Homo sapiens: one gene and its partners. The protein of the gene in region 3 purifies or fractionates together with the protein of the main gene of each other region. This does not show direct contact. Each region holds a gene or a part of one and is shown on either strand. Other genes may lie near its edges. The genes, in order: TAGAP, CKAP2, INSIG2, AFTPH, PPM1B, CYFIP1 and ELFN2.

Region 1 (3,500 bases), on a different chromosome or scaffold from region 3:
GCTTGAGCCCGGGAGGCAGAGGTTGCAGTGAGCTGAGATCAGGCTACTGCACTCCAGCCTGGTGACAGAGTGAAAGCCTGTCTCAAAAAAAAAAAAAAGTATCTGATTGTTACCAAATTTCTGTATGCTCTTTTCAGACACATAAAGATCTCAGATTCTCATTTTGGCACCTGACTCCAGTGTCCCCATTCTTCCTCACCTCCAAAAAAAAAAAAAAAAAAAAAAAGTCTTCAAGCTGACAAATTGCTTACTTTTCCTCACAGGTGAAGACACTGGTGGAATTCCTCATTGATAACTGCTTTGAAATATTTGGGGAGAACATTCCAGTGCATTCCAGTATCACTTCTGATGACTCCCTGGAGCACACTGACAGTTCAGGTATGGAATGTGCTATCATTTGATTACGATTGTAGGGAAAAGTTCATGCCAGTCTGCCAGTCATGTAAAGCATCTCTGATATTTGAGGCAGAAGTTACCTTCACAAATCACCGAGTCAGACTAGACTCCAGTCCATTAGGAAGTCATTAAACATGAAAACCCTGCTCCGGGCTTTTCCTGCAGCGCCTCCTCAGACCACAGATAGTCTTTCCCCCTTCCCAGTGTACATCGCAAATCACTGCTGATTTCACTAAGCTACCTTTAGCTCTGGAGTTGGAGTGAGAAACTTTTGTTTCCACTTCATGGGATATGACTCCATCACAATGAAAATGGGTCCAGTAAAAGGAGCAGTTTTAAAAATTAAGGTCAATACATTTTCAGTGAAATGCTGTTCTCTCTTTTCTTATTCTCTCCTCTCTTTCTCTCCTTCCTCCCTCCTTTACTCATTTCCTTTCCCTATTTTTCTTCTGATCTCAAAATAAATTCAGAAAGAAATAAACTTTTCATGTGGTACATTTCTTGTCATATCAAGCCCCTAAGTAGTTCTGCTAATAAATCACCTAGTGCCCTGATTGGTATGAGCAGGGCGAACTGTAGCAAAGTTCATTTCTAAAAGAACCTAAATGGCCGTGTGTGGTGGCTCACGCCTATAATCCCAGCACTTTGGGAGGCCAAGGCAGGCAGATTACCTGAGATCAGGAGTTCAAAAACAGCCTAGCCAACATGGTGAAACCCCGTCTCTACTAAAAATAGAAAAAATAGCCAGGCATGGTGGCGGGCACCTGTAATCCCAGCTACTGAGGCTGAGGAAGGAGAATCACTTGAACCCGGGAGGTAGAGGTTGCAGTGAGCCGAGATCACATCACTGCACTCCAGCCTGGGCAACAAACCGAGACTCCATCTCAAAAAATGAAAATAAAAAATACAAATAAAAATAAATAAATAAATAAACCCAAACAAATGTTCAACTGCTGCTTGACTTCCCCCAGATGTGTCGACCCTGCAGAATGACTCAGCCTACGACAGCAACGACCCTGATGTGGAATCCAACAGCAGCAGTGGCATCAGCTCTCCCAGCAGGCAGCCCCAGGTGCCCATGGCCACAGCTGCTGGCTTGGATAGCGCGGGCCCACAGGATGCCCGAGAGGTCAGCCCAGAGCCCATTGTGAGCACCGTGGCCAGGCTGAAAAGCTCCCTCGCACAGCCCGATAGGAGATACTCAGAGCCCAGCATGCCATCCTCCCAGGAGTGCCTCGAGAGCCGGGTGACAAACCAAACACTAACAAAGAGTGAAGGGGACTTCCCCGTGCCCCGGGTAGGCTCTCGTTTGGAAAGTGAGGAGGCTGAAGACCCATTTCCAGAGGAGGTCTTCCCTGCAGTGCAAGGCAAAACCAAGAGGCCGGTGGACCTGAAGATCAAGAACTTGGCCCCGGGTTCGGTGCTCCCGCGGGCACTGGTTCTCAAAGCCTTCTCCAGCAGCTCGCTGGACGCGTCCTCTGACAGCTCGCCCGTGGCTTCTCCTTCCAGTCCCAAAAGAAATTTCTTCAGCAGACATCAGTCTTTCACCACAAAGACAGAGAAAGGCAAGCCCAGCCGAGAAATTAAAAAGCACTCCATGTCTTTCACCTTTGCCCCTCACAAAAAAGTGCTGACCAAAAACCTCAGCGCGGGCTCTGGGAAATCGCAAGACTTTACCAGGGACCACGTCCCGAGGGGTGTCAGAAAGGAAAGCCAGCTTGCCGGCCGAATCGTGCAGGAAAATGGGTGTGAAACCCACAACCAAACAGCCCGCGGCTTCTGCCTGAGACCCCACGCCCTCTCGGTGGATGATGTGTTCCAGGGAGCTGACTGGGAGAGGCCTGGAAGCCCACCCTCTTATGAAGAGGCCATGCAGGGCCCGGCAGCCAGACTAGTGGCCTCCGAGAGCCAGACCGTGGGGAGCATGACGGTGGGGAGCATGAGGGCGAGGATGCTGGAGGCGCACTGCCTCCTACCCCCTCTTCCACCTGCTCACCACGTAGAGGACTCAAGACACAGGGGCAGCAAAGAGCCACTCCCTGGCCACGGACTCTCTCCCCTGCCTGAGCGATGGAAACAGAGCAGAACTGTCCATGCTTCTGGGGACTCTCTGGGGCACGTGTCTGGCCCAGGGAGACCTGAGCTCCTCCCGCTGAGGACCGTCTCCGAGTCCGTGCAGAGGAATAAGCGGGACTGTCTCGTGCGACGATGTAGCCAGCCGGTCTTTGAGGCTGACCAATTCCAATATGCCAAAGAATCGTATATTTAGGAGGGAGGCCATACGCCATGCCATAGCTTGTGCTATCTGTAAATATGAGACTTGTAAAGAACTGCCTGTAGATTGTTTTTAAAAGGTCTTGAATAAGCTCCTTGAGAAAGTTGTGGAAAGCCCTCCTCAGTGAGGATAGCTACACCATGGCCATGGCGCATCAGATAGTCTCTGTGTACCTGGATTTGTGCAATATGTAAAAATGTATCAAATGTATTATAGATAAGGTGTTAGGTGCAAAGGATGTCTAATAATCCCTGCACACGTTTTGAACTTGCAGTGAAGTACACTGCTGTTCCTTGCTTCCTGGGGCACTTTTCTCTTGGTTAGTGTTTAAAAATTATCTTCGCTTTTTTAATGTGGCCTCAAATGTCATGCCAATTTTCACATCTTCCACAAACTCCATTTAGGGAGAAATGTTTAAATCTCTGGTATAAGTTTACTCCATACCAGAGTAAACTATATATTACTCTATATAAGCAGTCTTGCAATAACTAATCACCACCATAGAAGAAAGAAACAGACTGCAAGGAACAGAGTTGAGTGTCTGGAGTCATCAAAGGCATTAAAAACTCCAGTAAAAGCTGGGGCCGTAGCAAAAATCATGAAAAACACTTCAACGTGTCCTTTCAATCATCCAATTAAATGTGGGTAGATTAATGAAAATGTATTACATCAATATTAACTCATCTATAGCACTTTGAGTATCTTTGTAGTTCATGATATCCTATCCTATAATGTGGAGGTAAATGATTTTATATGCATTGGGGGTCATATATAAAACTTCAATGTAATTTCACTACAATAAATTGCCTTCCTTATTTGAAAGTAAAAA
Region 2 (3,500 bases), on a different chromosome or scaffold from region 3:
TTAGTTCAACCATTGTGGAAGACAGTGTGGCGATTCCTCAAAGACCTAGAGACAGAAATACTTTCAATCCAGTAATCCCATTACTGGGTATATACCCAAAGGAATATAAATCATTCTATTATAAAGATCCATGCACGCATATGTTTATTGCAGCACTAGTCACAATAGCAAAGACATAGAATCAATCCAGATGCCCATCAATGATAGACTGGATAAAGAAAATGTACATATACACCATGGAATACTATGCAGCTATAAAAAGGAATGAGATCATGTCCTTTGCAGGAACATGGATGGAGCTGGAGGCCATTATCCTTCGCAAACACAGGAACAGAAAACTAAATACTGCATGTGGGAGTTAAGTGATGAGAACACATGGACAGCTAAAGAACAACACACACTGGGGCACATGGGTTGGAGGAGGGAGAGGATCAGGAAAAATAATGGATACTAGGCTTAATACCTGGGTGATAAAATAATCTGTACAACAAACCCCCATGACACACATTTACCTTTGTAACAAACCTGCACATCCTGCACACGTACTCCTGATCTTAAAATAAAAGTTAAAAAACAACAACAAAAAAAAACTACAGTTCACATGAAGGAAATAAAATAACTAAAACTTACCTAAATTAGCTTTTTCTTGACTCTTCATTGTTAGAATATCTACAATCGTGTGTCGCATCTCTTCAATAGGCTTAATTTTTTTAATGAAGAAAGCAGATCCATGTAAGTTTTATTTTCTCTGACATTAACTAGGTATCCAAGTCGCGATTAAATTTTCATACTGTATTTTAAAGTAAGAGTGGCTCTTAAACCATGCTTCTCAGACCACTTACAATTAAGATTGAAAAATGGCTGTCTTGGCTGGGCACGATGGCTCACGCCTGTAATCCCAGCACTTTGGGAGGCCTAGACGGGCAGATCACGAGGTCAGGAGATCAAGACCATCCTGGCTAACACGGTGAAACCCCGTCTCTACTAAAAACACAAAAAAATGAGCCGGGCGTGGTGGCAGGCGCCTGTAGTCCCAGTTACTCGGGAGGCTGAGGCAGGAGAATGGCGTGAACCCAGGAAGCGGAGCTTGCAGTGAGCCGAGATCATGCCACTGCACTCTAGCCTGGGCGAGAGAGTGAGACTCCATCTCAAAAAAAAAAAACAAAAACAAAAACAAAAAAACCAAAAACGAAAAATGGCTGTCTTTTCCAATTTATAGAGTAAAAATGAAGGATAGAATTTCTTTTCCTTTTTTTTCTTTTTTCTTTTTTTGAGACAGTCTCCCTCTATTGCCAGGATGGAATGCAGTGGTGCGATCTCGGCTCATTGTAACCTCAGCCTCCCAGGTTCAAATGATTCTCTTGCCTCAGCCTCTCGAGTAGCTGGGATTACGGGTGGGCACCACCATGCCCAGCTAATTTTTTGTATTTTTAGTAGAGGCAGAGTTTCACCATGCTGGCCAGGCTTGCTTGAACTCCTGACCTCATGATTTGCCGGCCTCCCAAAGTGCTGGGATTACAGGTGTGAGCCACCACGCCTGGCCTAGAATTTCATATTTTAAAACTTCCTCCATAATTTTACTTAAGTCTTGCTCCTTTTCTCTTACATTTAAGTCTATGGTTATATTTTTGTTTCATATGCTATGAAATGTATCTCTGAAGAGCTAAGGTTGATCATCTCAACATACTTCATTCATTCAAAAATTTACAAAAAATTACTAAGTGACCATTATTTACCTAAGCATTTGCTATGTTCCACCCAACACAATCAAGATTAGGGAAGGTGTAATTCACAGTCTTAGTTCCAGAACTGAGTCCTGAATTACTCAGCTATCCTGCTTTCAGTTTTCTTGGCTAATTTTTTTTTTTTTTTTTTTTGAGACAGGGTGTTGCTCTGTTGACTCAGGATGGAGTTCAGTGGCATAATCATGGCTCACTAGTCTTGAACCCCAGAGCTCAAGCAATTCTCCCACTTCAGCTTCCCGTATAGCTGTGACCACAACTGTCTACCACCAAAAAAAAAACTTTAAAAATTTTATTTTTTGCAGAGATGGGGGGTCTCACCCTCTTGCCCAGGCTGGTCTTGAACTCTTGGACTCAAACGATCCTCCCGCCTCGGCTTCCCAACGTGTTGGGATTACAGCCGTGAACCATCATGCCTGGCCACTAATTTTAAGAGATGGGGTCTATGTTGCCCAGGCTGGACTCAAACTCCTGGGCTCAGGCAATCCTCCCACCTTGGCCTCCCAAGTAGTTGAGACTATAGGTATCCACTACTGTGCCCAGCCATGTTGGCTAATTTTGATTCTTGTTTTCCAGCAGCTTTTCCTCTGGTGTTACATCTTGCTGTTTACATTATTGCTTTCTATGTGAGCCTTGGCTCCAGTTTTGCATCCTTGCTACAATGTCCTTAGCTGCCTTAAGTAATGTCCCTTCTGATACAATGTAGTAGGGGCCTAACACTCCCCTCCAGGTAGCATTCTGTCAAATATAATTACCATTCTAGAAAGTTTTACACATGACAGCCACTGACAGACTATCTGCTGAATATCTGATTTTTTATTTAAGTGAAAAGTCAAATAGCGTTCGTTGATTTTGTTGAGACAAAGGTGAATAGATCTTTCTTAAAAGGGAGTTTTAAAAAATTATCTATGTAAACAATCTCCAAGAATGTGTTTCTGAGAAACCTGGTCAAAAGGAAACATATTTGAAGAACATGTATCCATAAAAACAAAAACCCAACCAAACAAAAAACTCAAGAAATGATTTATTCTATACCCAAAACTTTGTGTATCAATACGCTAGAAGAGATAAGGAGTATGGTATCGAGGCACTATAGAGGTAATAATGTTAGAGAAACCGGTTTATTGCCATTTTCTGTATGCAGAAAGGACCAATATATACAGTGTATACATATTATATATATATGTGTGTGTGTATATATGTGTATATGTGTATATATGTGTATGTGTGTATATATATGTGTGCATATATGTGTGCATATATGTGTGTATATATGTGTGCATATATATGTGTATATATATGTGTGTATATATATGTGTGTATATATATACATATATGAGTACATTCGGGTTTACTCTTAAAGAGTTCTCACACAAAACCAAGAGAGCTTGATAACATTTAAAAAGCGAATTTAATCCCTTTTGCTTTATATTCAATAAACAAATTTTAATATTACATTCAGTCTCCCAGTAAACTTCCAACCAGGAAATGCATACAATAATATGCTAAAACATTTCATGCAGAAAGTTTCATTAAATATACATTTCAGCTTATATCCATTTTCTAAAATCTGATTATTCCCAATACAGGAATAAAAGACTTAGAAAGCCAACAAACAGCTTTTATAATGCAATCCTTGCAGCCTTTAAACATTTATTACCACTACATATACAAAGAAAATTTTCTCAAGTTATGTTGTGATGTGTTTCAAATTAATTCCGAATTGTCTACTACACTGTAATTGTAAAGATCAGTAAA
Region 3 (3,500 bases):
GACCAATGGTGCAGCATTTGAAAAAGGCTGTGTGACCACCCTTCTATCTCGAGATGAGATGCTGCAATACTGTATGCATTTTCTAGTCCACAACTCTTTTGAGTTAGGCATGTGCTGAGTATAGATGGCTCACAGAACATCAAGAGATTAAGAACATATCTCGGCAATGCAGAGCTCCAATAACTATTAGTAAATCTAGAAGTTTCACACTATATTCCTATTTAAAAATCTGCTCCAAAATCCTGACAAGATTAACTGACAGGATTTTAAAATTTCTATACAAATAAAATGGCAACAAGCATCCCTAACAGTTGAAATGTAGTTAAACGAATATCACCTCTTTTTTTCTCAAGGGGTCATAAAACTAACAGCTCATTTGTCACCCCCATCCCCCCACCATATATATCCTCCCTTTGCCTGTTGCTGAGTAAAGTCAACTAAGAGCAGACATTCCAAGTCAATTTTCCTGAGCAACTGATGCCTAGGTAAAGAATTATTACATAGAGAATACTGACATGTATGTGCAAAGGTATAAATAAGTAAAATCGACTATATTTTTATGCATGTGATGTCAGACTTGCAAGTGAGAGACAACTGAGGAGAGAAAGCAAAAACACAAAAAGAAATTTAAACTGCCACACTGCCAACCCTGGGATTTGCCAATAAAAATCAAATCCATTGAGTATGCATGGTTCTCAGTTGCTCACTGAGAGGGAGAATTCGAAGAAGCTTGTCACTTCCCATTAAATGTCTTCTTTCTTTCCTTTAAATAAAGGCATGGCAGAGTCTGATAGCAATATATACAACACTGTGAGGTTCCACTGTTTGAGAGCTCAACAGAGTATGTCTGGGCCTCTTTTCCTCTTCTTGTACTTTTTTTTAAAAAAAACAAGAAAGACTGTTAAAATCATGCCTGTGTAAAATCATATGCAAACACAATCCTGCTTATAAATCAAATGGTTCTCTGATGCAAAAATCACATTTCTTGTGATACCTTTAAGTTATTTCCCAGTGACTAGTTACAGTCTACCAAAGCTAAACACTAAAGAAGTTTGTAAAATATCAGTAGTAAGTCATCACTTTTTTATGGGAATGTGCTTAAATGCAGGGAGGCACTAAAAGGAACACAGTTAAAGTCAGACATTTTGTAAGAAAACAGGAACTGAATAAACGAAAACACTCCATGAGGTATACTTCGACGCAAAACTATAAGATAATATTTTCCTTCAACAAATACTTAAGCCCTGACAATATGTCTGGTTCTTGGTATTTGCTGGAGATTTAAAAAGGTAAGGCCAGGCGTGGTGGCTCACACCTGTAATCCCAGCACTTTGAGAGGCCGAGGCAGGCGAATCGCGAGGTCAGGAGTTTGAGACCAGCCCGGCCAACATGGTGAAAACCTGTCTCCACTAAAAATACAAAAAAATAGCTGGACGTAGTGGTGGGCGCCTGTAATCCCAGCTACTCGGAAGGCTGAGGCAGGAGAATCGCTTGAAGCTGGGAGGTGGAGGTTGCAGTAAGCCGAGATGGCGCCACTGCACTCCAGCCCAGGTGACGGAGTGAGACTCCGTCTCAAAAAAAAAAAAAAAAAAAAAAAGGCAAAAGAGTAAGATACGATTCCAATTGCAAAGTGACCACAGAAACAATTAAATACAATCCTGCATTAAGGGCAGCTGACAGGACAGAGGGGTCCCAGGCTTCTCCTTGCCTGTGCTAGGGGAAGGCAAGGTGCTGGGCTGTCAGAAAAGCTTCACGGAAAGAGGTGACCCTTGAGGCAGGAGCATTCAGCAGTAAATGGCGCAGAAATAGTGCTCTCATTAAAGGGAGGTGGCTGAGGACATTCATGGAAAACTGGAAACTGCTGGTGTTAAGAGGAAGCTGTAAGCTTCAGACACAAAGGGAGCTGCAGGGTCCAGAAAGACTCTGAAGAAGAAAAAAGCAGTCAAGGGCCATATTATAAAGACTTTACCCTGCAGACAATGGGCAATCAGGAAAACAATGTCATCACTGTTGTACCAGAGAGAGGCCATCTTCTTAGCAGTGAGGGTACCATACAAGGGGGCTGAGAAAAGGGTGGGTGCAAAACTAGAGGCCGGCAAAGACTAAAGACTCCAAGCACAGCCATTGAGGGATGGACCAAGAAAGAGACAGAGGAAAGATGTAAGACTTGGAAACTGGATGTAGAACGGGAGAGAAAGCAAGGAATCTTACAAGGCTCTACAGGAATAGGGCAAGGGACTGCACAGCTAAACAGGAAAGATTTTTCTTTTCTTTTTACATTAGATATTATTTTCATACGTTTGGACACAACCAGGCTACTTGTGATTTTTGAGGCAACTTCTCTACTTATTTTATCCACACGAGTTGTCTTTTTCTATTTATTCTTTAGAAAGATTTCTTTGTGGCCCTCAATAATGCTGAAAAGATTTCTAATTCCAATTCTGGTGCATGGCACACATAAGGAAGTTAACTTGTAACATCAGCATTATCAAACTAAAAATATGGAATTAAGAAAAAAAAGTCATCAAAATTAGTTTACCAAAGTTCTCTATTAGTTGTCCCACCAGAACCACCACTAGCAAATTTTCCAGGATTGTGCTATAGAGAAAGGTGGCAAATAACAAGGAGCACTTTCTACACACAGAAGGTGGTGATTCTGGAGCCCCTCCAAAAGGTGGCTGCTCTATCTATGAATGTTAGTTGAACAGGAAAATCAAAGGATGATTATCAGTTTTTCTGACTTAAGATGGTAAGACCCTAGCGAGGTCTTGAAAATCCACGCCAACACATATACACAAAAACATATGCATATTACATACACACACAAACTCAAACACACTATGTTTCTTAAATCATTTACTTCTTTTCCCATGATACTTTCCCTAAAATAATGATGCAGGGGATGGCAGAGCAGAGATTTTGAGAGAATCCATTTTCCATCTCTGGCAACTTGGACAAATCTGATATCTTTCACTCTCATCTACTAAACACCATGACTTAACTAACAAAATTGGTAGCAGAATTGGCTGGAATCTAGATTTCCTAATGTCTCTCTACTTTCTTTTGCCCAAGTACCTTATGGTACAAACTGCTTTCAGAAGAAATACTTAAGCAAGAAATGTAAATGCAAATTCCCCAAATGAGGTTAAGTTTGTAAGTGTGACAAACCTAGTGGCTGGGAACAGGAAGGAAAGTAGTGGCTGAACTGTGGTATTAGCATTTGAAATTTTCCTTCCTAAAATGTAAGTTTATGGCAAAAGTGCTGACATTAAAGGGGCAGAAGGACAAGACAGCAGGTGCAGCCCTGTTACTCTTCATAGTGGAGGTACAATGAAACCTCAGTTAAGTTCTCCTGCCCCAGCCCAAATGCACAACACACGCCAGGGAATTCCATCTAGGTCTGGCACCCAGTCTGGAGGCTTGAAAAGTGGCATCCTGAGTAGGGGGAAAAGTGTGAGTAGCTTCCTTTTCCCTTCCCCAGCATGTGACATGTGGACCCA
Region 4 (3,500 bases), about 54 Mb from region 3:
AAGAAAGTTTCATATATGTTTAGGATCAGATATTACATTAGATTGCTTCAAATCTTACGTTGAATAAGATAGAGCAGGAGATTAGCAATCTTTTCTATAGAGAGCCAGACAGTAAATATGTTAGGCCTTGTAGGCCATATGTAAAGGAATAAGCATGGGTATGTTCCAGTGAAACTTATTTACAAAAACAGGCAGTAGATTTGTCCTGTGGGTCATGGTTTGCCCCTTGAGGTAGAGCAGTAAATAATAAATAACCAGAATCCACTAACAGCATTGCCCAACACAGGGAGGGAAACTCCTCAACAATTCAGCAACTAATAGAATGAACAAAGGCTTTTTTTTTTTTTTTTTTTGAGATAGAGTCTCGCTCTGTCACCCAGGTTGGAGTTTAGTGGTGCAATCTCGGCTCACTGCAAGCTCTGCCTCCCAGGTTCACGTCATTCTCCTGCCTCAGCCTCCCGAGTAGCTGGGACTACAGGTGCCCACCACCGCGCCCAGCTAATTTTTTGTATTTTTAGTAGACGGTGTTTCACCATGTTAGCCAGGATGGTCTCCATCTCCTGACCTCGTGATCCACCCACCTCGGTCTCCCAAAGTGCTGGGGTTACAGGTGTGAGCCACTGCGCCCAGCCCAAATATTTTTATTAAATTTACTCTGACATTTTATTTTTAAAAGTGTATCAATTTCCAGCCAGGTGCAGTGTCTCACGCCTGTAATCCCAGCACTTTGGGAAGCCGAGGCGGGTGGATTGCTTGAGCTCAGGAGTTTGAAACCAGCCTGGCCAACATGGTGAAACCCCGTCTCTACTAAAAATACAAAAATTAGCAGGGCATGGTGGCGCACGCCTGTAGTCCCAGCTACTCAGGAGGTTGAGGCATGAGAATCACTTGAACCAGGAGAGGTGGAGGTGGCAGTGAGCTGAGATCATGCCACTGTAGTCCAGCCTGGGTGACAGAGCAAGACTTGGTCTTAAAAAAAAAAAAAAAGTGTATCAATTTCCATAAGACCAGTTTGGTGGTAAGGGCATCCTGTAATGAGTTTCTCACCACTATCTTGTTTTGGGTAATAAATAAGGCCAAATTTAACTTACTACTAGTTAATTCCAGTAAGTAAATGACTGGTATAATAACACTTCAATAGAGGGCTATAGATCCAGGGGCCAAGACTCCAGTTTCTGCATTTATTTATTTTATTTTTTATTTTTTATTTTTTTGAGATGGAGTCTTACTCTGTCACCGAGGCTGGAGTGCAGTGGTGCGATCTCGGCTCACTGCAACCTTGGCCTCTCAGGTTCAAGCGATTCTGCTGCCTTAGCCTCCCAAGTAACTGGGATTATAGGCGTCTACCACCATTTCTGCCCAGTTTCTGCATTTATAATCTGGAGATATCAGGGTCTATCTACCTCACGAGGTGGATGATAATTCAGAGGATTAAATATTTGGCACCGAGGGTGTCAGAGGTGGCAGCTTTTATCATTACTACTGTTATTATACAAATGATACATACAGACACAGGGGGCTTGCCAGGGAATGAAATAAATGAATGGCAAAACTAGAATCAAAGCTCACTAAGAATGTTTCTCTACCATGATTTAGCATTCTAAATCACTATGAAAATACTTATCTCAATTTATCAATTTCTACCATATTATGATATAACAAGAAATTAAATAATCTAAGCATTCTGCATCCTTCCCAAGGTCATCCTATTGAGTTGGGGGAAAAAAAAGTACCTAGTTTTTAAGAGTATCTATTTTTAAGAGTCTCTTATATAAATGAAACCTGCTATAGTTACTCCTTGTAGAGTTTAAATTTTGGATATTGGTGGTTGGCTTACAGGCATTATGACTTAAATCTTGATTGCATTATGAAACACAAAATGTATAAACCACACATTAGGCATTAAGAATACTTTGCTTCTCAGCTGGGCGCGGTGGCTCATGCCTGTAATTCCAGCACTTTGGGAGGCCGAGGCAGGCAGATCACAAGGTCAGGAGTTCGAGACCAGCCTGACCAACATTGTGAAACCGTGTCTCTACTAAAAGTACAAAAAAATTAGCTGGGCGTGGTGGCTGGTGCCTGTAATCCCAGCTACTTGGGGAGGCCCAGGCAAAGAGAATCACTTGAACCTGGGAGGCAGAGGTGCAAGACTCCATCTCAAAAAGAGTACTTTGCTTTCCAAGAAGCACAATAAAGTTAAACATTCAAAAATGTGATGTAACATAGTCCAAATAACTTGGTAAGTAGAACAGTTACAAGAATATAACTAATGTAATACTCAGAAGAAGAGAAGTTAAAATAACCTACCACAAGAACAGTTTCTCTTATGACCAGACAGGTTTTTTTCAGGAAATAGATTTTCCCAAACAGATTGTGATCAGACACTAATTTTTTAAAGAAATCATTGCTATTTTGAACATAAAATTTGAGCACTTGGGATAAAAGGTGTATCAAAACTGTGAGAGTGGCAAAGGTTTCAAATTTGTTTTTCAAAAATTTTTTGGGGGTACATATATTATTTTCATCTGTTTTACAATACAATCATCCTCTCAACATCAGCCAAGGATAGTTTAACATATGCAAATAAATCAGTAGTAAAATTCAGTATCACATCAAAACTCTAGTTAAAGTAAAATATTAAACTTGGATTTCTTCTTATGAGTACAAAGGAACTTTGCTTATATTACTCTGCTTATGTGAACTCCTATTTCAATACAGAGTATATGCAGCCATAATGGGAAATCTACTGGTTTTGATTAGGTGGGGGCACAACACAAATCTTCAAACTCCCTGTAGCAGATTAATGCAGAAAAAGGTTGCATCAAACAGTGACATTTACTAACATATTACAGTACGTGTGGACTTGAATTAGATGTAAAATTCCAAAAAATAGATACTTTATTATTTAGAATTGGTGAAGTGACACTGGCTGAGCTCTAGTTTCCTTAGGCACGTAAGGCAGTATAAGTAAAGCAAACAATATCATTTTAACCCAGTTCAGGAAAGTGGGAGCCTAAATTCAGCAAAAGATCAAAAGATGTACTCTGAAACCTACTCAGAAGCTGCAAAAGCTTGCTATCATGTAACATAATTTTCATTTAATGCTCACATAGTGCCCACCATGTGGCAGACATTATTCTAAATGCTTTACAAAGTTTAGCTCATTTAAGTTTCAAAAGAACCATATGAGGGAGGTAATAATATCATCTCCATTTCCTGGATGAGAAAAGCAGAGCAGAAAGAGGTTAACTTCCCTGTGGTCACATGAATATTAAGTGGAGAGGCTGAGTTCCTACCCAGGAAGTATAGTTTCAGTGTAGGTGCTCTTAACCACTATATTATGTTGTCATCAAAGCAGTTCTAAGTTCAATTTCTAAAAATTGCAAGAGCTTTGAGGGCAGGGACTATGTCTTTTTCTTGAATTTCCAGTACCTGGGTTCCTGCACATAGTTGGTATTAATGTGCACCAGATTAAAAAAAAAAAAAAAAGCACTTCGCCT
Region 5 (3,500 bases), about 74 Mb from region 3:
CTCTAAATGAAGCAATTCTGACCTGTAGATTTTTGAGACAAGCATAGGCATATGTTTGTTGCCTGACTAGCTAATGAAAACAGCATTTTCCCCAATTATAAAAAAAAGGTATATACTTACTATTGGAAAAAAAATCCAGATGATGAAGAAAATATAGAGAAACACCCAAAATTTTGCCATCCACCCTAAGTCAGCTACTTTCATTGTTGTGGTGTATATTGTTCCAGTCTTTTCTGCCTGCCTGTGAGTGTGTGTATTTTTATAAAACCGAGATGATTATACTTGTTATTCTACAGCCTGCCTTTTCCAACAATATATTGTAGAGAGATCTCCATGCCTATAAGTATTGATCTGTATCATTTTTCTTGGCTGCGTAGTATTTTATTGAAAGAATGAGGTTGTGAGGGAATAGCCAAAAAATCTATTAGGTCTGTAATTTGGACTAAGGAAAGAAGTTTGTGTTAGTAGATTAACTCACTTATCCATTGAAAGGATGCTAGTTTTTGAGAATTTTGACTCGACCCTTCTGAATGAGGTTTAAATATTTCTGGTGGTATATCTTCACTTGCTAGCTTTTATCAATTTAGAGTGATTAAATGTTCATGTTGATGGTGTTAAAAGATTCTAGATGGCATCCTAGAATCTCAGAAATGAGGAATGATAATAACAGACAAGAAGTTGGGGCCCATGATTCATTCAATGTTAATGGAAGCTGACCATCATAGTTCCTTCTAATGGAGCTGCATTCAAATTGAAATCAGTTTGGAGGTTTGAATTGAAACAAAACAGACTTAAAATTATTTTTGAACCTTTGAAAGTTACTTATGGAAACCTTCATTTCTGTTTAACTTCGTAATTTTGTCTTTCCATTTATTTGTATTGTAAAAGCAAGGGTTAGCAATAAGATCAAATATAATTACTTTGAATTTACTCAGAAAAATTGTAAGTTAAAAATTCATGGAAAGCACTTAGCGATTGCACAGTAGTTACCTGCTGTAAGAGGAGAGGAAACATTAATAAGTAGATGTTTCCCTGATAAGAGATTTAAATGAAGTCCTAGTTTTTTCTAACACCTCCATCACTTGTCATACTTTCATAATTTATAAGCACTTTTATCTTAACTCATTAAATCTTGGGAGGTTATCATAATCATAATCGTGGTAGTATTAGTAAATTATTGCTTTCTGTAAGCCAAACACTATTCTAAATACTTTACATATTTTAACTCATGTAATTTTCACAACCATATGAGGTAGTTAAGATGACGAGGTCAGGAGATCGAGACCATCCTGGCTAACGCAGTGAAACCCCGTCTCTATTAAAAAATAGAAAAAATCGGCCGGGCGTTGTGGTGGGCGCTTGTAGTCCCAGCTACTCAGGAGGCTGAGGCAGGAGAATGACTTGAACCCGGGAGGCAGAGCTTGCAGTGAGCCGAGATCACGCCACTGCACTCCAGTCTGGGTGACAGAGCGAGACTCCGTCTCAAAAAAAAAAAAAAAAAAAAAAAAAAGATAAGCATTTTTCAGGGTTGCCAGTTAATATTAATCTGTAAGTGTTGTATGACTGTGGTCAGGTATTATCCTATTTAAATTAGGTATTTAACTCGAGGGGAGAATGGGAGCTAAGAAAGCAACCCTCCCATTTTATTTGCAATGCTGGCATTTATGGTGTTTACTGCCAACTAATTTCGGGTTGCTTAAAATATGTAACTGCCACGTGCATAGCTTTTCATAACTTGTAAATGATACATACTTATTAATCCTCATAGTAACTTTCTGAGGTGAACAAAATAAAAAGTTTTTTTAATTTGCAAGTAAGGAAATGGAGGTTGTTTGATATTAAAAGATATCCATAAGTCATATACTTGGTGAGTATTGAGGCTGAGACTAGTTTTCTGACTCAAGTTTAGTATTTTTGTTAACAATATTTCCCAGAAGGGCCTGATAAAATAAAGAAGAGTGGGTGTGGGTGTGGGTGTGGGTGTGTGTGTGTGTGTGTGTGTGTGTAAGTGTCTGTCTGTTTCGGTTTTCATGGTCTGAGAAATTTTTCCCCAAGGGAAACATTAAGACTAAATTTTTTTTGTAACAAATACAGAGATGTTTGAAGTAAAGTGATTCCCCTTGATGTTTCTGCTTTCCAGTCTCATCTCACTTAGGGAACCACTGCTCATGGTTTGCTGTATATCTTTCCAAATGGTTCTCTGTGATTATTGATAGAAATGTATAAACGTAAAATAGGATTTTTTCTTTTTTTGTATTTTATAGAAAAAGATCATGCTATGTTTGTTACTTTGTCACCTGTTTTGTTTTTCTTAAATTATAAAAGTCGGTATTCTTTTAAATTGTTCTTTTAAAACATTATTTGATTTTCCAAAATTTCATTTATATACCATCTACCAGAAGCCTATTTATTTTAAAACATGAGATAGTACCTCATAGTTGGATAAAATTGAGGGAAATTATCATTTTCCAAAGGCAACATCATTCTATATTAATTTATATAACATAGAAAATGTAACCCCCTCAATAATTGTTTAGTTCTAAACTCAGGAGAATTGCTTGAACCTGGGATGCAGAGGTTGCAGTGAGCTGAGATCGCGCCATTGCACTCCAGCCTGGGCGACAGAGTGAGACTCCGTGTCAAAAAAACAAAAACAAACAAAAAACTGTATCAGATTGTTTTCTGTTTAAGTTTAGATGCCCTTATTTATGGCAGGGGCACTGGCGTCTTTGATCTGGTACTATGATTATTAAGAGTGTTAACTGCTGTGCTGTTGTAAAAAGTAAAAAGAACATGTAATAATCAATTTTTATATGCAGAGCTAATTTCTTTAGTTATCCAAACTGGATTTAGAAAAAAAAATGTTTTATTTATGGACTTAGTGAAAACTTTATACTGATTATACAAGGATGTTTTGTCTCTAAAAAACAATGGCACAAAGGAAAGGACCTTTTCTGTTGCTGTATAACAGCTACTGAAACATATTCATACTTGGTGTTTAGGGGAAAGCCATCTTTACATAGAAATAGAAGCAAGCCAGGCAAGGTGGCTAAGAAGCAACATCACTGAAATCACACATGCCTGAGATGTAAATATAAATTATTTCCCTTAAATGTCTTTGGAGAACCATAAATTTATTGGAACTCTCTTTCAATTAATTTTCCAAAAGTATTTATATTTTATAACTTACAAAAATCGAATGGAAATTAGATAAGGAAATGTTCCACAATGCTCATGTTGTTGTTACCAAAAACTCAAAAGGGTTAAAAGAAATTAGATTTCTAAAAGTGTAAGGTGTTAATTCCGTTTATGCATAAAATTGCTTTATAAAGTGTAATTATGCTTGATTCTTTTTTTGTTGTTGTGTTTTAGAAAGGGTGTCTCACTGTGTTGCCCGGGCTAGTCTCAAACTCCTGGCCTTAAATGATCCTCCTGCCTCAGCCTCCCAAACTGCGGGGATTACAGGCAGCCACCATGCCCAGCTGTTTGATTCTTGAATA
Region 6 (3,500 bases), on a different chromosome or scaffold from region 3:
TGAGACAGAGTCTCGCTGTGTCACCTAGGCTGGAGTGTAGTGACGCCATCTCAGCTCACTGCAACCTCCACCTCCCAGTTTCAAGCAGTTCTCCTGCCTTAGCCTCCCAAGTAGCTGGGACTACAGGTGTGCACCACCACACCAGGCTAATTTTTGTATTTTTAGTAGAGACGGGGTTTCACCATATTGGCCAGGCTGGTCTCGAACTCCTGACCTTGTGATCCGCCTGCCTCGGCCTCCCAAAATACTGGGATTACAGGCATGAGCCACTGCGCCCGGGTGCTTTTAGTTATTTTTCTTCGATTTTGGGGGGGTTTATTTTGCTGTTTTCTATAAATTAGTGATGAATGTTTGATAAGTATTATGATTTTTATCCTTTTTAGTTTTCTAATGCGTGCATCTAAAGCTCTCAGTTTGCTGTTAACTTGCCTTTTCCTTCTTCCTGTAAGTGTGAATATGTAGGATTGTTATGTTCACTTAAATGGGTTTTTCCTCGTTTGGTTTTTTAAATAGAACTTTTCTTTTTTGTTGATTGGAAAAACAATATAAAATCATCAGTTTTCCAAAGTAAGCATGCTGAAAACACAAGCATGGCATTAGGAAGGCACAGTGCCTGCGGCGCCATCACAGAGATGGCGCTGAGCAGCTGGGTGCGTTTTCTTCCAGACTTTTTCCTTTCTAAAATTTTCATTATTTTAATTGCATATAGACCATGAGTCTTACATGAAAGCAGTCTATTTGGAAATTCTTTACGTTATAGAAGGATGAATTAAAAGCAGACTGTCAACTTTTCCACCTGAAAATTTCATGAAAAAGAAAAGCACCAAAATCATATAAGCCATGTTTCAAGTACTTGTCAGACACGTCTTCATTTACCCATGAATCAGGCTGTTTATAAAGCCATAATGAGGAACTCAAAAGGTGTGAATAAAACCAGAAAGTGATAGAGGGAGACTGTGTGAAGCCTTGGGGAAACACATTTGTGTTCTTGCTAAGTGAACTTCAAACCAACAGATTTAATAAAAGTAGGAAGATGCCTAGCCAAGCATGGTAGTGCATGCTTATAGAACTAGTTACCCAGGAGGCTGAGGCAGGAGGATCGATTGACCCTGGGAGTTCAAGGCTGCAGTGAGCTATGATCATGCCACTGCACTCCAGTCTGGGCAACAGAGTGAGACCCTGTCTCAAAAAAAAAAAAAAAAAAAAAAAGCTGCCTTAATTTTGAATCTGTCAAATACTTAATTTCAAAAGGTTTTTTTTGTTTGTTTGTTTTTTGTTTTTTTTTATTACTGTGGACTGAAGACCATTTTCAGATGTTGAAGTAGGGTTTTTGTTTTGTTTTGTTTTGAGACAGGGTCTCGCTCTGTCACCCAGGCTGGAGAGCAGTGGCATAGTCATGGCTCACTGCAGCCTCGAACTCCTAGGCTCAAGTGATCCTCCTGGCTTAGCCTCCCGAGTAGCTGGGACTATAGGCTCATGCCACCACACCTGGCTAATTTTTAAATTTTTTGTAGAGATGGGGTCTGGCCATTTTGTTCGGGCTGATCTTGAACTCTGGTCTCAAGTGATTCTCCCGCCTCAGCCTCCCAAAGTGCCAGGATTATGGGTGTGAGCCACTGTGCCTGGCCAAAGAAGGGTTGTTAAGATTTTCCCAAATGTATTAGTCTTAGGTACAGCGTTCTAGTTAAAAGATAAAAAGAAGTGAATTATGTTTCACTGGTGCTATTAAATGTTCCACTTTGGTGTCTTATATGTCAGACATCCACACGGCAGGGTGGACTTGGGGTAAGTGTGTCTTGCTCTGCCTCACTTGCTGCTTTCAGAGAGATTTCTAGGCCTCACATAGCTATCATGAAGTTGGCTGTAGAAATATTTATAAACGGCAAAAGCCGTAAGAAAGCTCATGCAATTGTAAAGGTCATACTTGGTTTGTGACCTTCAATTGTTTATTCAGAAAGTAATAAAGCACACTGTCATGACAAAATTACTGTCTGGAAACAGGGAAATAATGAGCCCTGGCACCATTTTTCTGTCCCAGGAATTCCTTTGGAAGCTCTTTGTCATGTAATTATGTTCCATCAGAGTCTTCCAGGCTTTTTCTGTGAATGGTAGTTCACTGCGCCTTTGTTGTGAACAATATGGGATTTGGACTACAACCTCTTGTAACTTCTTTTTCTAGTAATATCATGCCTGCTTTCCTGAGTCTTTTTCTTCTTTCCTATTTGAATTCCATCACAGGAGGGTGTGCTGGGGTGGATGCATGTGTGTTTCGAGTCAGATGCATCCCTGTCCTCCAGGTGCTCATGGTCTGATGGGGAGTCAGATGCGGGCACAGTTCCATTGACTATGGCTTTGGAGAAGACGTTTTGGGGCAGGGCAGCTGCAGGGCACGAACGCGGGAGGGCGTAAGGTGCTGTGGGCGAGGAGGAGCAGCCCCCGGCATGTGCCAGGCAGAGGAGGCTTGGTGCCATCCCTAAGAAGGGCCGTCCCTGTTGCTGTGTCCCCCGCAGGTGATCGCCATGATCAAAGGCCTGCAGGTGCTGATGGGCAGGATGGAGAGCGTGTTCAACCACGCCATCCGGCACACCGTCTATGCCGCACTGCAGGACTTCTCCCAGGTGACCCTTAGGGAGCCGCTGCGGCAGGCCATCAAGAAGAAGAAGAACGTCATCCAGAGGTCAGCCTTCCCCACGCCCTGTGCCCGCTGTGCCCACACGTCCTCGGATGAACTTGGATTCAAACAACAGGAGCGTTAAATTCTCAAAAATGATTTCAATATATTTATCTTCAACCTTCAGATGCCCTCTTGGTGAATTACCTCTAAAAGTAATGCATGGGTCCAATTATTAACCCAAACAATGGACAGTAAGTCAGCTGCCGAGTGTCTAGGGAGTCTGAGGACCCCGGGACAAGGTGCATTTATCCCAGGCTCGCGGTGCCTGTGGTTCATGCATGGTGCCTTATGGGGGTCTCTGCACGGTGGAGCCCTGTTGGTGATGAGGCTGTGTTCCAAACCAGTCGAGAGACATGGCCAGGCTCTGGTCATGTGGGTGACTTCACATTCCTGTTGGTTACTGGGGACAGCCAGCTGCGGGCAGGCGGGGCCCAGCTCTGCTCCGTGCGGAGGCTGTGTTCTGCCCTCTCCCTGCCCACAGCATGACTCAGAGCCACCTCACTGCTGCCCTGGGCTAACAGATGCGAACTGGAGCTCAGGGCAGTCTTCTGGGGGTAGTAATACTCTCCAGAAGGCAGACTCCTTTTTAACTTTCCTGTTGAGCTGGTCCATTACCACATCCCTCCATGGCCCCCAGAGTAATTTGTATTTTCATGGGGGCTGTTCTGAGAGCCTTGTAGTTGGGTGAGGAGATGGTGTGATTGTGAGGCTGGAGGTCTCGGCCTCTGGGCCTTGCTGATCACTTGGTGGGGTGTTCAGTGTCCTGCAGGCCATCAGGAAGACCGTGTGTGACTGGGAGACGGGGCATGAGCCCTTCAATGACCCA
Region 7 (3,500 bases), on a different chromosome or scaffold from region 3:
CGGGAAAGCATTAAAATTGCAAGTTCCTGCAATTTTCCCCTCGTCCACTCTCCCAATCAAAATCTCAGTGGACAGGGCCCAAGAATCTGCATTTTAACGAACACCCAGAGATTCTAATGCTCCCTGACAAAAAGGATATTACTCAATTTCTTGGCGCAGCATGGATGGTCCCGTGTGGTTGTTCCTCAAACTACATGTCCAGACTCATCTTCTCAAAATCCACTCTGGGCTTCCCCACCTCCGGGCCCCTGCTCACACGGTCACTCCATATGGCATGCCCCCACCCAGGGGTAGGCAGGACCTCTTTCACAATCCTCCAGCCAAAGTTAAACAAGATAACAGAGAGCGCCTTGCCCGATGCCTGGCACATAGCAGGTGCATAATCGAGAGAATTCTGCAAAGCCCAGAGCAGAAGTTGGCACAAACTCTCCAGCCCTGCCTGGGAGGCTCGCTCCACACCTGGCCTCCAGCCTGCAGCAGCAACCCCCTCTCGGTCAGGTCACAAAGGGACAAGAATCACCTGTCAAGCAAGCCCTACTGTGTGCAGACCCCATGCTGGGCACTTGTCAGAGGTTCCCGTGTCTCACCTCTCCTCCAGGGCCCTGAGCTCTGCCAGGCAGGGGCTCCTCTCTGGGGGTTCCTGCCTGAGCCCCGGGGCCCAGCATTTCTCCCTGGGTGAAACATGCTAATAAGGGTGTGTGTGCACGCGCCATCTGAATGCAAAATGCAGCGATCCGTCCTCGGTAGCATGTAGATGAAAGGAATTTGTTTAATAAGTATTTTTTGAGGGCCTACCAGTCTCCGCCTGCACAGAGCTGACATGAAGTGGGAGAAATAAGACAGGCAATAGGCAGATGTAGGAAATCCACTGGGGAATGAGAAGGGCCAGGAAGGGAGTGAGGCAGGTCGGCTGACCCCACAGCCTCTGTCTCTCCAAGATTCAGGGGCAATTGTAGGGGGAGAAGGATAATAGATGGGCCAAGGAGGGAAACTGAGTCAGGCCTGAGTCTTGGGACTAGGCCCACGGCAGGCTGGTCAGGCAGCCTTGGGATTCATTCCCTACTTCCCCCTGAGAGAGGTGGTGACCAGTGTACACAAACAGTCACAAGAGCTGGCAGCACCCAGGCTCTTTTCATGCATCCTTAGGCGCCCCCAACCCCAGCAGTACCCATGCACTTCAGGCGGTGAAAAGCAGAGGGTGAAAAGGATGGGAAAGAAACAGACACATGCATGCACAGTGCAGACCCCTTCCAGGAAGCCAGGAATGAACGGAGGGGGCAGATGGGAAGGGGGAGGAAAATAATGGCATCTCGCATGCCAGACAGGATGTTATACACGTGGTCTTCTCTTACCTAACCTTTAGCATGACCTTTAAGACAACCCAGAAGGGTTAAGAATTCGTTTTTTTTGTTTTTTGGTTGTTTTATTGTTGCTGTTGTTGTTCTGGCCAGGCACAGTGGCTCACGCCTGCAATCCCAGCACTTTGGGAGGCTAAGGAGGGAGGATCACGAGGTCAGGAGTTCGAGACCAGCCTAACCAACATAGTGAAACCTCGTCTCTACTAAAAATACAAAAATTAGCCGGGTGTGGTGGTGTGTGCCTGTAATCCCAGCTACTGGGGAAGTTTTTTTTGAGACGGAGCCTCACTCTGTCACCCAGGCTGGAGTGCAGTAGCACAATCTCGGCTCACTGCAACCTGGGCCTCCTGGGTTCAAGCGATTCTCCTGCCTCAACCTCCTGAGTAGCTGGGATTACAGGCATGCACCACGATGCCCGAATAATTTTTTGTATTTTTAGTAGAGACAGGGTTTCACCATGTTGGCCAGGCTGGTCTCGAACTCCTGACCTCAGGTGATCCTTCTGCCTCGGCCTCCCAAAGTGCTAGGATTACAGGTGTGAGCCACCACGCCCAACCAAGAATTCGGTACTTTTGTCCCCACTTCATATTGAGGAAACTGGGCCTCGGGGGGGGGGGGGGAAGTGACTTGCCCAGGACCCACACCGAGGAGGAAAAGAGGTTGGATTTGGAGCCCTGCCCCTGCCCTTTCCACAAGCAAGATGGCCAGGTGGGGAGTCCAGGGGGCCACAGCTGAGGCCACGATAGACTCGGGACCTGAAGAAGATACTGATCCTGGGGCAACCTCCCCACTGTCACCCGGGGGAGCCCTCCAAGCGCTGCTGTTCGAGGCACTGTGGGAGGGCCAGGGAGCAAAGGGCTGCCTTTGGGGGTGTCCCATCTCTGTGGGGAATGGGATGGGGGGTTGAGATGCAGGCACCACCCACGAGGCCCCTCCTTTCCTGTCTCTCCTTGCAGCCAAAGCAAAGGGCGTCCGCCACCCCCAGCTTCCCTAGGGCAGGGTCACTGCACCCATTTACAGATAAGCAAAGCAAGGCCCAGAAAGGGCCTTCAGTGAGAGGGGTAGGCCAAGATGTAGAGGCCTCCAGGCCCATCTGGCAAAGGAGTTCAGCAGCCAATGGTGCTGATGTGAGAGTTTCCCTTCGAGGGTTCCAGTCCTGGTTCCATCGCTGTGTGGCCCTGGACTGGTCTGTAACCTCTCTGTTTCTTGTCTTCAAAATGAGGAATAATAATAGTGCCTGCTGCAGCTGGCTTTTGTGGGACTAAACGAATGCCGCCCATAAAGAGCTTCGAACCGGGCCTGGCTCTCAGTAGGGGCTCAATAATATTAGCTGATATCATTATTATTATTATCACTATAGTTATTACTATTTCAATCAGCAGCATCGTGCAGCCAGCACCCTTCCTCTGGCACCCCAGGCATAAGCAAGCCTGCCCAGGTGGCTCTTGAGTCCTCAGGGCTTCTCTGGGGCTTTCCTGGGGACTGTCGGCAGAGCTAGGGGGAAGGAGAGGGGGCTCAATTATTCCAACCCCCAGACACCATCTCCAGTAATAATGTCAATGCCTCTGCCCCAGGTGGTAATTGAGCCAAGAGAAGGTTAATTTAATCAGGGATTGGGCTGGGACGGCAGGAGGCAGAGGACTGGGTAAACCTTCTAGACGATTAACACAGCTCCTGAAGAGGTCTAACTTGCTAAGAAGCGTCAGGTTTCGAGGCAATCCTACTTCTCGGCCATCCACTCCACACAGCACATGTCACAACATGGGGCAGGTGGGGGCACCGAGAGAGGAGCTTGGCCCCCAGGCACTGTGGCCGGAGCAGGTGAGGGTAGCAGCAATGTGTGCCTCCCAGCCCTGCACACGGTTGTCACCCTTTCACACTCACACATCACACCCGCAAGGGAAGCTGCCACCACCCTCTTACAGAGACAGGAGAGGCTGACCTCTGTCACACACAGCCAGGATGCAGATGCGGCAGGGGTGTCACTGGAACCCAATTCTGCTGCCAAAAACAAGCATCCTACAAGACCTCAGGGGATATTGAGGAACAGGCATGGAGCCCCCAGTGACCGCCCTAGACACGCCCCACTGGAGAAGGCTTGCTGAGTGTGCCCGTTCCTATCACGCTGACTGTTTCTGGAGC

Evidence for each region.
Region 1: the proteins of INSIG2 (region 3) and TAGAP purify together in Homo sapiens (affinity purification with mass spectrometry, with the first as the bait; one large-scale study listed by BioGRID). This does not show direct contact.
Region 2: the proteins of INSIG2 (region 3) and CKAP2 purify together in Homo sapiens (affinity purification with mass spectrometry, with the first as the bait; one large-scale study listed by BioGRID). This does not show direct contact.
Region 4: the proteins of INSIG2 (region 3) and AFTPH purify together in Homo sapiens (affinity purification with mass spectrometry, with the first as the bait; one large-scale study listed by BioGRID). This does not show direct contact.
Region 5: the proteins of INSIG2 (region 3) and PPM1B purify together in Homo sapiens (affinity purification with mass spectrometry, with the first as the bait; one large-scale study listed by BioGRID). This does not show direct contact.
Region 6: the proteins of INSIG2 (region 3) and CYFIP1 purify together in Homo sapiens (affinity purification with mass spectrometry, with the first as the bait; one large-scale study listed by BioGRID). This does not show direct contact.
Region 7: the proteins of INSIG2 (region 3) and ELFN2 purify together in Homo sapiens (affinity purification with mass spectrometry, with the first as the bait; one large-scale study listed by BioGRID). This does not show direct contact.

What each region holds. Positions count from the first base shown.
Region 1 is NC_000006.12:159,034,992-159,038,491, reverse strand, and holds part of TAGAP (T-cell activation Rho GTPase-activating protein), read left to right. Parts: intron 1-263; coding exon 264-378; intron 379-1,367; coding exon 1,368-2,665; 3' UTR 2,666-3,500. UniProt on the Homo sapiens protein: May function as a GTPase-activating protein and may play important roles during T-cell activation.
Region 2 is NC_000013.11:52,465,478-52,468,977, reverse strand, and holds part of CKAP2 (cytoskeleton-associated protein 2), read right to left. Parts: exon of another isoform or gene 3,135-3,500; intron 701-3,134; coding exon 631-700; intron 1-630. UniProt on the Homo sapiens protein: Possesses microtubule stabilizing properties. Involved in regulating aneuploidy, cell cycling, and cell death in a p53/TP53-dependent manner.
Region 3 is NC_000002.12:118,098,471-118,101,970, reverse strand, and holds part of INSIG2 (insulin-induced gene 2 protein), read right to left. Parts: intron 1-3,500. UniProt on the Homo sapiens protein: Oxysterol-binding protein that mediates feedback control of cholesterol synthesis by controlling both endoplasmic reticulum to Golgi transport of SCAP and degradation of HMGCR.
Region 4 is NC_000002.12:64,562,328-64,565,827, reverse strand, and holds part of AFTPH (aftiphilin), read right to left. Parts: intron 1-3,500. UniProt on the Homo sapiens protein: Component of clathrin-coated vesicles.
Region 5 is NC_000002.12:44,203,375-44,206,874, forward strand, and holds part of PPM1B (protein phosphatase 1B), read left to right. Parts: intron 1-3,500.
Region 6 is NC_000015.10:22,917,869-22,921,368, reverse strand, and holds part of CYFIP1 (cytoplasmic FMR1-interacting protein 1), read left to right. Parts: intron 1-2,510; coding exon 2,511-2,677; intron 2,678-3,433; coding exon 3,434-3,500. UniProt on the Homo sapiens protein: Component of the CYFIP1-EIF4E-FMR1 complex which binds to the mRNA cap and mediates translational repression. In the CYFIP1-EIF4E-FMR1 complex this subunit is an adapter between EIF4E and FMR1.
Region 7 is NC_000022.11:37,420,980-37,424,479, forward strand, and holds part of ELFN2 (protein phosphatase 1 regulatory subunit 29 precursor), read right to left. Parts: intron 1-3,500. UniProt on the Homo sapiens protein: Inhibits phosphatase activity of protein phosphatase 1 (PP1) complexes.